Linked DNA regions of Homo sapiens. Changing the gene in region 2 together with the main gene of any one other region gives a genetic interaction. Each region holds a gene or a part of one and is shown on either strand. Other genes may lie near its edges.

Region 1 (2,514 bases), on a different chromosome or scaffold from region 2:
TTCCATGTTACGTTTCCAACCAGCCTTCAGCTGGATTTGAGAAGAACCATGGGACTCAGGGAGGGGAGGGGGAGAGTGTGTGAGTCACAGGTCTCCCAGATTCCCTTAGTGTTACAGCGTGGTGGGAATGACATCACTGTTTGTAGATCTACCCTTGTCAAGGGGGATCAAATGAGCAGGGAGGTTCTTTACCATCTTTAAAGATATTAAGTAGTCTGGGCACGGTGGCTCATGCCTGTAATCCCAGCACTTTGGGAGGTTGAGGTGGGCGGATCATGAGGTCAGGAGTTCGAGACCAGCCTGGCCAACATAGTGAAAACCTGTCTCTACTAAAAATACAAAAAAATTAGCCGGGTGTGGTGGCGGGCAACTGTAATCCCAGCTACTTGGGAGGCTGAGGCAAGGAGAATCACATGAACCCGGGAGGCAGAGGTTGCAGTGAGCTGAGATCGCCCCACTGCACTCCAGCCTGGGTGACTGCGAGATTCCATCTCAAAAAAAAAAAAAAAAGATATTATAGTAATACCTACTTTTTTTTTTTTTTTTTTTTTTTGAGTGCAGTGGCACGATCTTGGCTCACTGCAATCTCTGCCTCCTGGGTTCAAGCGATTCTCCTGCCTCAGCCTCCCAAGTAGCTGGGATTAAAGGCGCCCGCCACCACGCCTGGCTAATTTTGTATTTTTAGTAGAGATGGGGTTTCACCATGTTGGCCAGGATGGTCTCGAACTCCTGACCTCAGGTGATCCGCCCGCCTTGGCCTCCCACATATTAAGTAATACCTACTTTTGACAGCCATGAGTAGCATCTTTTTTTAAATGTGGTCACTTCTTTTTTCTCATTGCCAGAGTCGTGTCCCAAATGCGAACATCCTCGTGCTTACTTCATGCAGCTTCAGACCCGCTCTGCAGATGAGCCGATGACCACCTTCTACAAGTGCTGCAATGCTCAGTGTGGACACCGCTGGAGGGATTAGGGCCAGGATGGCCCAGCTGCCCTAGTGTGTGCTTGCCTTGTCCCTCGGGGTAGATGCTTAGCTGGCAGTATGAGTTGTGTGTCCTGAGGGTCTTTGCTAGTGTGGTGGAAAGATAAACCTTTTGAGGTGAAGAGCCAGGGGGTCAGGAAATATGGCCTATCTGCCAGGCAGGGTGGATGAAGTCATGAATGTCTGGGAGTTTTTCTGTGTGGGGAGGAGACAGAGACCCATAACTAAATATGCTCTGTGTAAAGTCCTATTCTTTCATCTTCCACTTTATTGGCAGTTGACATTCCCTTACTCCCAATCAACACTCTTAAATATTTGTACTGTTTGTAAAACTTAGTACATGTCCCTAAATATTTAACTGTTACTTGTAAACTTGTGTAATTTATTATTTATTTTAATCAAAATTCTGAATATTTCATTTAAATGAAAGTTGGAATATTGCCTTCTCAGTGTTTTAAATAGCTTAAGAGGTAGAAAGCAAACCCCAAATCACAGTGATCCCAGAATAGACTACATACTTACATTTGAACAGGCTACGAAAATGTTAATCACCGGGATTTCAATTTCTTTCTTTATTCCTATTCTTACTCCCTTATTCATTTTTTTGAACCTCCCCTGATTTGCTTCCTCGGGTTGCTTTAAATGTATAAGATACTATTTATTTATTTATTTATTTTATTTATTTATTTATTTATTTAAGACAGAGTCTTGTTCTGTCGCCCAGGCTGGAGTGCAGTGGTACGAATTCAGCTCACTGCAACCTCTGCCTTCCGGGTTCAAGGGATTCTCCTGTCTCAGCCTCCCAAGCAGCTGGGACTACAGGCATGCACCACCACACCTGGGTAATTTTGCATTTTTAGTAGAGATGGGGTTTCTCCATGTTGGTCGGGCTGGTCTCCAACTCCTGACCTCAGATAATCTGTCTGCCTCGGCCTCCTAAAGTGCTGGGATTACAGGCGTGAGCCACTGTGTCCCACCAATCTTTACATTTAATATGACTATTTTCTTATTGTTTGAACATGTTGATCAGTTCCTGATCACAATATGGGGCCTATCCTATATGGGTCCTAGAGTGGTTGGATTTTATTTTTTAACCTAAACACAGACCCTAGGTTTGAAAGGGTGTACTGGGTCTGTTAGACTTATAGGCATTTTTTTTTTTTTTAATACTTAGCCATGCATCTCTTGCATTGTCACTCCTTTAGGAGTGCATCTGTCTTCTAAGGGTTAGCTCTCCTAACTCTTTTAAATCCCCTCTAATTTGATTAATGATTGGGGGCAGCCTTCTGAACAATATTTCACGGGACGAATACCCAGTTTGTTTGGTGGGGGTGTACCTGACTTGGAGGAGGACCATGGGCGAGACCCGATCTTATTTTAGATGAGTTTCTTGACAAAATTTTTTCAGCAGCTGTTTGAGTGTCTGGTTCGTGCACTGTACTTGAGCTCTGTGGCCTGTAGGATGTACGCAATTTCCACTTTATTTTTAATAGTCTAGTTAAGTCCTGAACTCTTGCAGCCACAAATGTTGG
Region 2 (2,356 bases):
CTATTTTGATTCCAACCTCAGAACTGAGATCAAAATACCAGCTCTAATAATTTTCTAGCTCTTCACATCTTTGACAAATCAATGAACTTCTGCGCTTCATTGTCTTACCTGGGAAAGTGTCAAACATTAAACATAATAATGCTTCTCAAATACTCATGTCCAACACAAGGTAAACAACTAAATACAGTTTCCTATAGGTGGAGTGTAGACCTTACTATCAGTAAATTATCTCCAGTGATCTTTAAGGAATCTAATTGAAGATCCCAAGGAGGCTGAATTCTCAGATTTAGAGCCTTTCAATACTGAGTATTAAAGTCATTAGAAACTAAGTAGAACCGGCAATAAAGAATGCCCAGCAATAGATACTTAATGAGTTGGAAGTAGCTCTTCTAATTAAGAGATCTAATAACTGTCACTAGTTAATGGCCACAAAAAGTCAATAAAGTACACATTGAGGGGTATACTTTTCAGGAAAAAACAGTGGCAGCTTCTAAAATAAGCTGTTAAACCAAAAAGATTTAAGTTTTTAGACATCAGACAAATCTCTATTGTCACATTATAGACTCTTTGTTAAACACCTCAGCTAGCTTTCATGTTATTTTAAGTAACCTCCATGGAAAAGCAACCACAATACTAGGAAGAATCTGTTAAAGAATGCTTTATTAATACAAATACACACAAACTCTGAAGCACTAAGAAATTTAAATATCTATGTCACAGCAAACAGGTGGCAATTCAACATCCAGGGTCGACAGAATGCTTGAAGGAGACTGCAACAGATCTAGAAAACAGGAATCTCTTATTAAAATTTCTGCAAATCCTTGAGTCATTGTCCATATCAACATAGACATTAGCTGTCAATCAAAAATTCATGTTTTTCCCTTTGTCAAATCAATCACCTGCATCCCCTCCTGACACATTTTTTGGAATGTGTCTGTGGCCCCAGAATTGACTTTCATTAGGAAGTAAGTTTTAGAAGTATCTGAATCTCTATTGTTCTTAGAGACCAAAGTAAGAGTTAACAGTCTCACTAATGTAACTTATTAGGACAAATTATCCCACATCAGAACAAACAGAAAACATAATGTTGGCTTTGACTACCAGTTCAAACGAAGACCTCAGACCTTCTGCAGTAAGAAGTTATTGTCAGTCTATGCTACAGCACAGGTGTTTTGATCTTATATTAGCTTTGGATATAACATGGAATCATCATTCCAAGCAAGTTTATTATATATGCTTCAACTTATAGCCTAAGAAGATGTAAGTGAGAATTAATCTTTTGGCTGTAGTAAGACTATCCAGTTTCCAGAATAACAATTTTACTGGGGCATTTGGGACTGAAAAGCAATATTAATCGAGAATAGTTTATTTTTCTGAAAACTAATCCTTGTCATTTGAAGGACAGAAATTACTCACAGGCTCACCTCCCGCACAACTCTTCCCATGGTAATGGAAGTGTTATGAAACAAATTGTTTGCAGCCCTTCCAGAAGGGCACTTGCTCACTTACTGGATTCCCATGGTGGAGAGGGCATCTTCACAGGTGAAGGGGGGCCCAGCTGAAACAGCTTTTCAAGCTCTCTCTCCTCGTCAAGGATCATGAGAGGCACTCCACTCAAGGGGAGGTGCGCAATCTGGTGCTCTTCAGGCAGGTCAAAACTCTCAAAGTCTGTTACAGAGAGAAAGCGTTTTTGTCAGGGCAGCAGTTCTTAGTGTGGGCTGTAGATCCCTTGTGGTCTGAGACCCTTTGAGGGGGTCCATGAGGTCAAAACTATTTTCAAGACAATATTCACACCTTTTTCCACTGGGTTGACATTTGTAATGATGGTACCAAGGCAGCGGTGGAGAAAGCTGCTGGTGCCTCAACACAAATCAAGGCAGTGACAGTAAACCATATTAGCAGTCTCTCTGTTCTGCATCCTTCTTCGCTTGTAGTTTAAAAATGCCAGTTTCACTTACTGTCACTTCACCATATGCAGTAGAAAGTATTAATTTTATTAGCTCTCCATCCTTGAGATGTCTTTTTAATGTTCTGTGTGATAAAATGAGAAGTATGCCATAAAGCACTTCCACTGTACACCAAAATACGATTAAAAGGATTTGTGCAACTATATGAGTTGCAAGCTAAAACTAGAGAACATTTTCCTGGAATACTGTTTTTACTTGAATTAACAACTGCAAGAAATCCCATGGTCACTCAGACCTGGGTGCTTGTCACACTTTTTCTTAAAGGAATGAAAGAAGTCTATCACCTCAAGGAAAACTGACAGCCTTTGTTGCCAATGGCAGAATATAAAACGTTAAAATTTTGTCAAAAATTAAAAAATGAATATTTTTTTTTTGAGACAGAGTCTCAC
Region 3 (3,577 bases), on a different chromosome or scaffold from region 2:
GACTGAGGGTGGCAGGACCTAGCTAGAGGAGGGGACAATTGAGCCGACACCTGAAGGAGACTAACAGAGACAGAAAAGGGGCTTTGGGAAGTTAAGAAGGTATGAGAAGTTCAACCCACGGTGTTTTAAAAAAAATTTTTGCTACATCACAATTTGCTGGTCTTCCTTTCTCTGCTACACGTGGAGACACCAAAGTGAATGTTGGGAAGACACTTGGCTTAGTCAACCACCTTTGATAAGAACTCTTCCATGTTCCTCAACAGCCTTGGATTCAGAAAGTCCCCAAAATACCAAGTTCAAAGACTGATGTTGTGCAGCGCAGGGGCCCCCCACACCCTGTGTTTCCACACTCTGCAGACAGGAGGGGTATTTCACTCTCTCACCATTCACACTGTGCTTGTCAGGACCAAGGGTCTGGGCATTGTACAGGAGCTTGGGAGAAGTGCAGCCATGAGGCCCAGCCCAAACTATGAATAAGGAGTCCCTTTACATGACCTTCAGGCGATCTCCATGCACATCGAGGTTCTCAGAAGCACCTTTAAGGACCCTGCACTGCCACACAGCTCCCACTATGCTCAGCCCTAGAAATATGACATCGTCCATGTCAAAGTTCCTTAAAATGCAGCACAGGTACCTCACCCCAAAACTCCCCATGATCTGGCCTAGTCTAGCTTCTCCATCTCTACCCTCAGAGCTGCTTCTCTGGCGATATCTCCTTCTGTGCCCATCACTCCAACTGTGTGACACCTTCCCCAATTCCCAAACACCCATTGCCCCTCCCATGGTCTCTTCTGATTCTCTTCATGTCTCTCATTCAAAAGGGCTGGTCCTTGACATTGCCACCTAGAATCTTCTGTTCCTTCTCTACAGCACACTGCAGATCTGAAGGGGATGAGGTGCAGTGTTGGCTCAACCTCCCTCTCAGCTCAGCCTGGGAGCTATGCTACAAAACGTGGAACTTCAAATCCAGGATGCAGTCGCTTTTAGGTTGCTGTGATTTCAGTAGTAAGGTGACAAAAATGCCTTGAAAAGCTCTTGGCAGGTAATGCCTTTCTCATGTGTGGTCAGTAGATGAAGAGTGCTGGAGCAGGTGTGTGACCTCACAAGATGGGGCCCAGCCAGAATCAAGAGGCAACTGTTAACAACCAGCAGCCAAGGGACAGATATGGGGCAGCGAATGCAGGCCAGCATAGCCACAGAAAGGAAACAAGACATCACAAGGGAAAACTTAAATCCAAGCCAAACCGTGTCTGGCACTCTGAGCAGGTCAAATTAGATGACCATGGAGAAGGTGGGATGATCTGCACCCATTCTCCCGATGGCATCTCCAGGTGTGCTGGCCAACTGAGGCAGCACACAACCCACCTACCAACCAGTGTGGCTGCAGGTTTCAGGCCCTAACAGAGTGCCCAGGGGTTGTTTCTCTGCTGCCACCTTAGGTACTTCTGAATCTAGGAAAATTTAAAAAACCCCACTGTTCTAGGAAGTTAAAGTCCACATAATTGAGCTTTTTTTTTTTTTTTTGGATTTATGAGACTATATGCAATCTGTTAGACTAGAGTTGACTGCAGTATTTAGAATATGAAAGAATATGAAAAACAAAACAGAGAAGCACACTCACTGCATAAGGCCTTTGTGGGATTTACTTGTTGTCCAGCAAGAAACTGTAGGAGCTTCCTAATATCTATGTGCACTTCAGCCATGTGTTCCACGTTTCTGTCCTCATGGGTGCTTTCAGAGGCTAAAATGATAGGAATGCATTTAAATACAACATCTTCCCACGTAACAGGAAACCTGGAGATACTCAATGCATTTTACTTAAATAAATGATTCACTTTAGCACTGATTTTAGCATCCTGAAGAAATATTGCAACTTGTAAATGTTGTCATTCATTAAGCATTAGGTCCTAACTATTTAAAATACTATGATAATTTCCAAGGCATCTTTATTTACAGGGGACTTGAAATATAACTCAATCTCCCTCTTCAGGTCAAAGAAAATTTTATTTATTTGTACTTACTATGTATTTTAAGAGTGAAAATATATACATTAACTAATACAAGGCCTGTCATTCTGGAGTGGAATTAAAAAAAAAAAGAAAACATCCTTTCTACCTCTGAGAAAGTACCAAAGATAAGTCCCACCTTATGTTTATTAAAAGAAACAAAATGAGTGACATCAGAATGAATCGCTTTACACAATATTATCAAAGGCATAACCGTATGGATTTCACTCTGCTGGAGCAGGATGCTCTTAACTAGAAAGTAAAAATTCCTTCCAACTCTATGCTAAAATCTGTGTTTATATTCAAGCAGACTCGTAGTAACTTAAATGTGACTAGGGCCGATTTTATTGGTTCTGGCACACTTATGTATCATAAAATGATTTTCTCATCATCCCCAGGTGTTTCTCCCCTGGTCCTTTACCTGCTTTCCTGCTCAGGCAGCCCCTGCTACTGTGCAGCTGCCACTTTCCAGCCATGATTCTAACCCCCTCTTGGCTTATAACTCACCAAACTGTCCAACCGTCCCCTCTCTCCCCACTTGCTGAACTGACTCTATCGTCCCTTATTACCTTGTATGAGATAAGAAATGTGATCAAGTGAAACAGTTTTGCATCTGCTACACTAATTTCATACATATGGAAGTAACTGAAGGAGGAGAATATAAGAACAAATGTATCTACCTTTCTGAATCCATGCCAGGTGAGAAATAGAAATCTTTAGGAGTAGGACAGGAATTGAATAGCTGGAAGGGATCTTGGAGGTTATGTAACTTGATCCGAATTCTACAGAGGATGGAGACCCTGCACAGATCTGTCAGCTACTTGGTGGCACAGCTTCTCCCCCTGGTGGCTAACTGCCCCACTACACCACAGGGATACATAGTCCAGTCTCAATTCCTTTGTTCTTCACCCAAGCATGAAACAAAGTCAACTGAATTTCAACCTTTTTACATGAAGAGACCTCAACAGGTAGGTTATCTGAAACAATTAACTTATCCAAAGCAAAATATAACCCACTAGAAAACTTACCTAATGGAGGATTTCCAAGATCTTTAAAATGAGTTGTAACACATACTAATTCAGTTTCTATTTTCAAATTCAATTCTCCATCTAGGTTTGCTTCAATAACCTGCAAATTGAGTATTTTACATAGTCTTAGAAAAGGAAGCCAAAAGGAAAAAAACTCCATGGGCAACAGCTTTCACACAACCAGATGACAAAGTACCCTACAAAACCTCAAAACACCTCAGAGCACACTGAGACCCCCGTGCTATCAGGGAAAGTGAGAAGATAAGGCCCAAGAGCCAAGAACTCAGAAATCTCCCAAAAATCTCAAAGGGGAAGTCCCCCTGCCTGCCTCCCGGAATGAAGAACTCAGTGAAGATGTGAAAACAGGTGGAACTCCGAGAGGACTTGCCAGGAGACTACAGCAGCACAAGGGCAGGGCTCTAGGGAGGGCTGGGTGGAGCTGATGAGAACTCCCTCACAGCAGGAGAGAGTCCTGCACTGAGAAGGAACCACGGGAAGTAAGAGCCTCAACTAAGCAGAATGGGCACCTTGGGCAAAAAAAAG

What was found.
Region 1: changes in PTTG1 (region 2) and POLR3K impair growth when combined (synthetic growth defect), as found in Homo sapiens cells (one large-scale study listed by BioGRID).
Region 3: changes in PTTG1 (region 2) and HUS1 together harm fitness more than expected from each alone (negative genetic interaction), as found in Homo sapiens cells (one large-scale study listed by BioGRID).

Annotation. Positions count from the first base shown.
Region 1 is NC_000016.10:45,889-48,402, reverse strand, and holds the end of POLR3K (DNA-directed RNA polymerase III subunit RPC10), read left to right. Parts: intron 1-845; coding exon 846-973; 3' UTR 974-1,996; downstream 1,997-2,514. UniProt on the Homo sapiens protein: Core component of RNA polymerase III (Pol III) which synthesizes small non-coding RNAs using the four ribonucleoside triphosphates as substrates. Can mediate Pol I proofreading of the nascent RNA transcript.
Region 2 is NC_000005.10:160,427,027-160,429,382, reverse strand, and holds the end of PTTG1 (securin), read right to left. Parts: intron 1,669-2,356; coding exon 1,510-1,668; intron 782-1,509; coding exon 702-781; 3' UTR 644-701; downstream 1-643. UniProt on the Homo sapiens protein: Regulatory protein, which plays a central role in chromosome stability, in the p53/TP53 pathway, and DNA repair. Probably acts by blocking the action of key proteins.
Region 3 is NC_000007.14:47,966,185-47,969,761, forward strand, and holds part of HUS1 (checkpoint protein HUS1), read right to left. Parts: intron 3,135-3,577; coding exon 3,035-3,134; intron 1,742-3,034; coding exon 1,622-1,741; intron 1-1,621. UniProt on the Homo sapiens protein: Component of the 9-1-1 cell-cycle checkpoint response complex that plays a major role in DNA repair. The 9-1-1 complex is recruited to DNA lesion upon damage by the RAD17-replication factor C (RFC) clamp loader complex.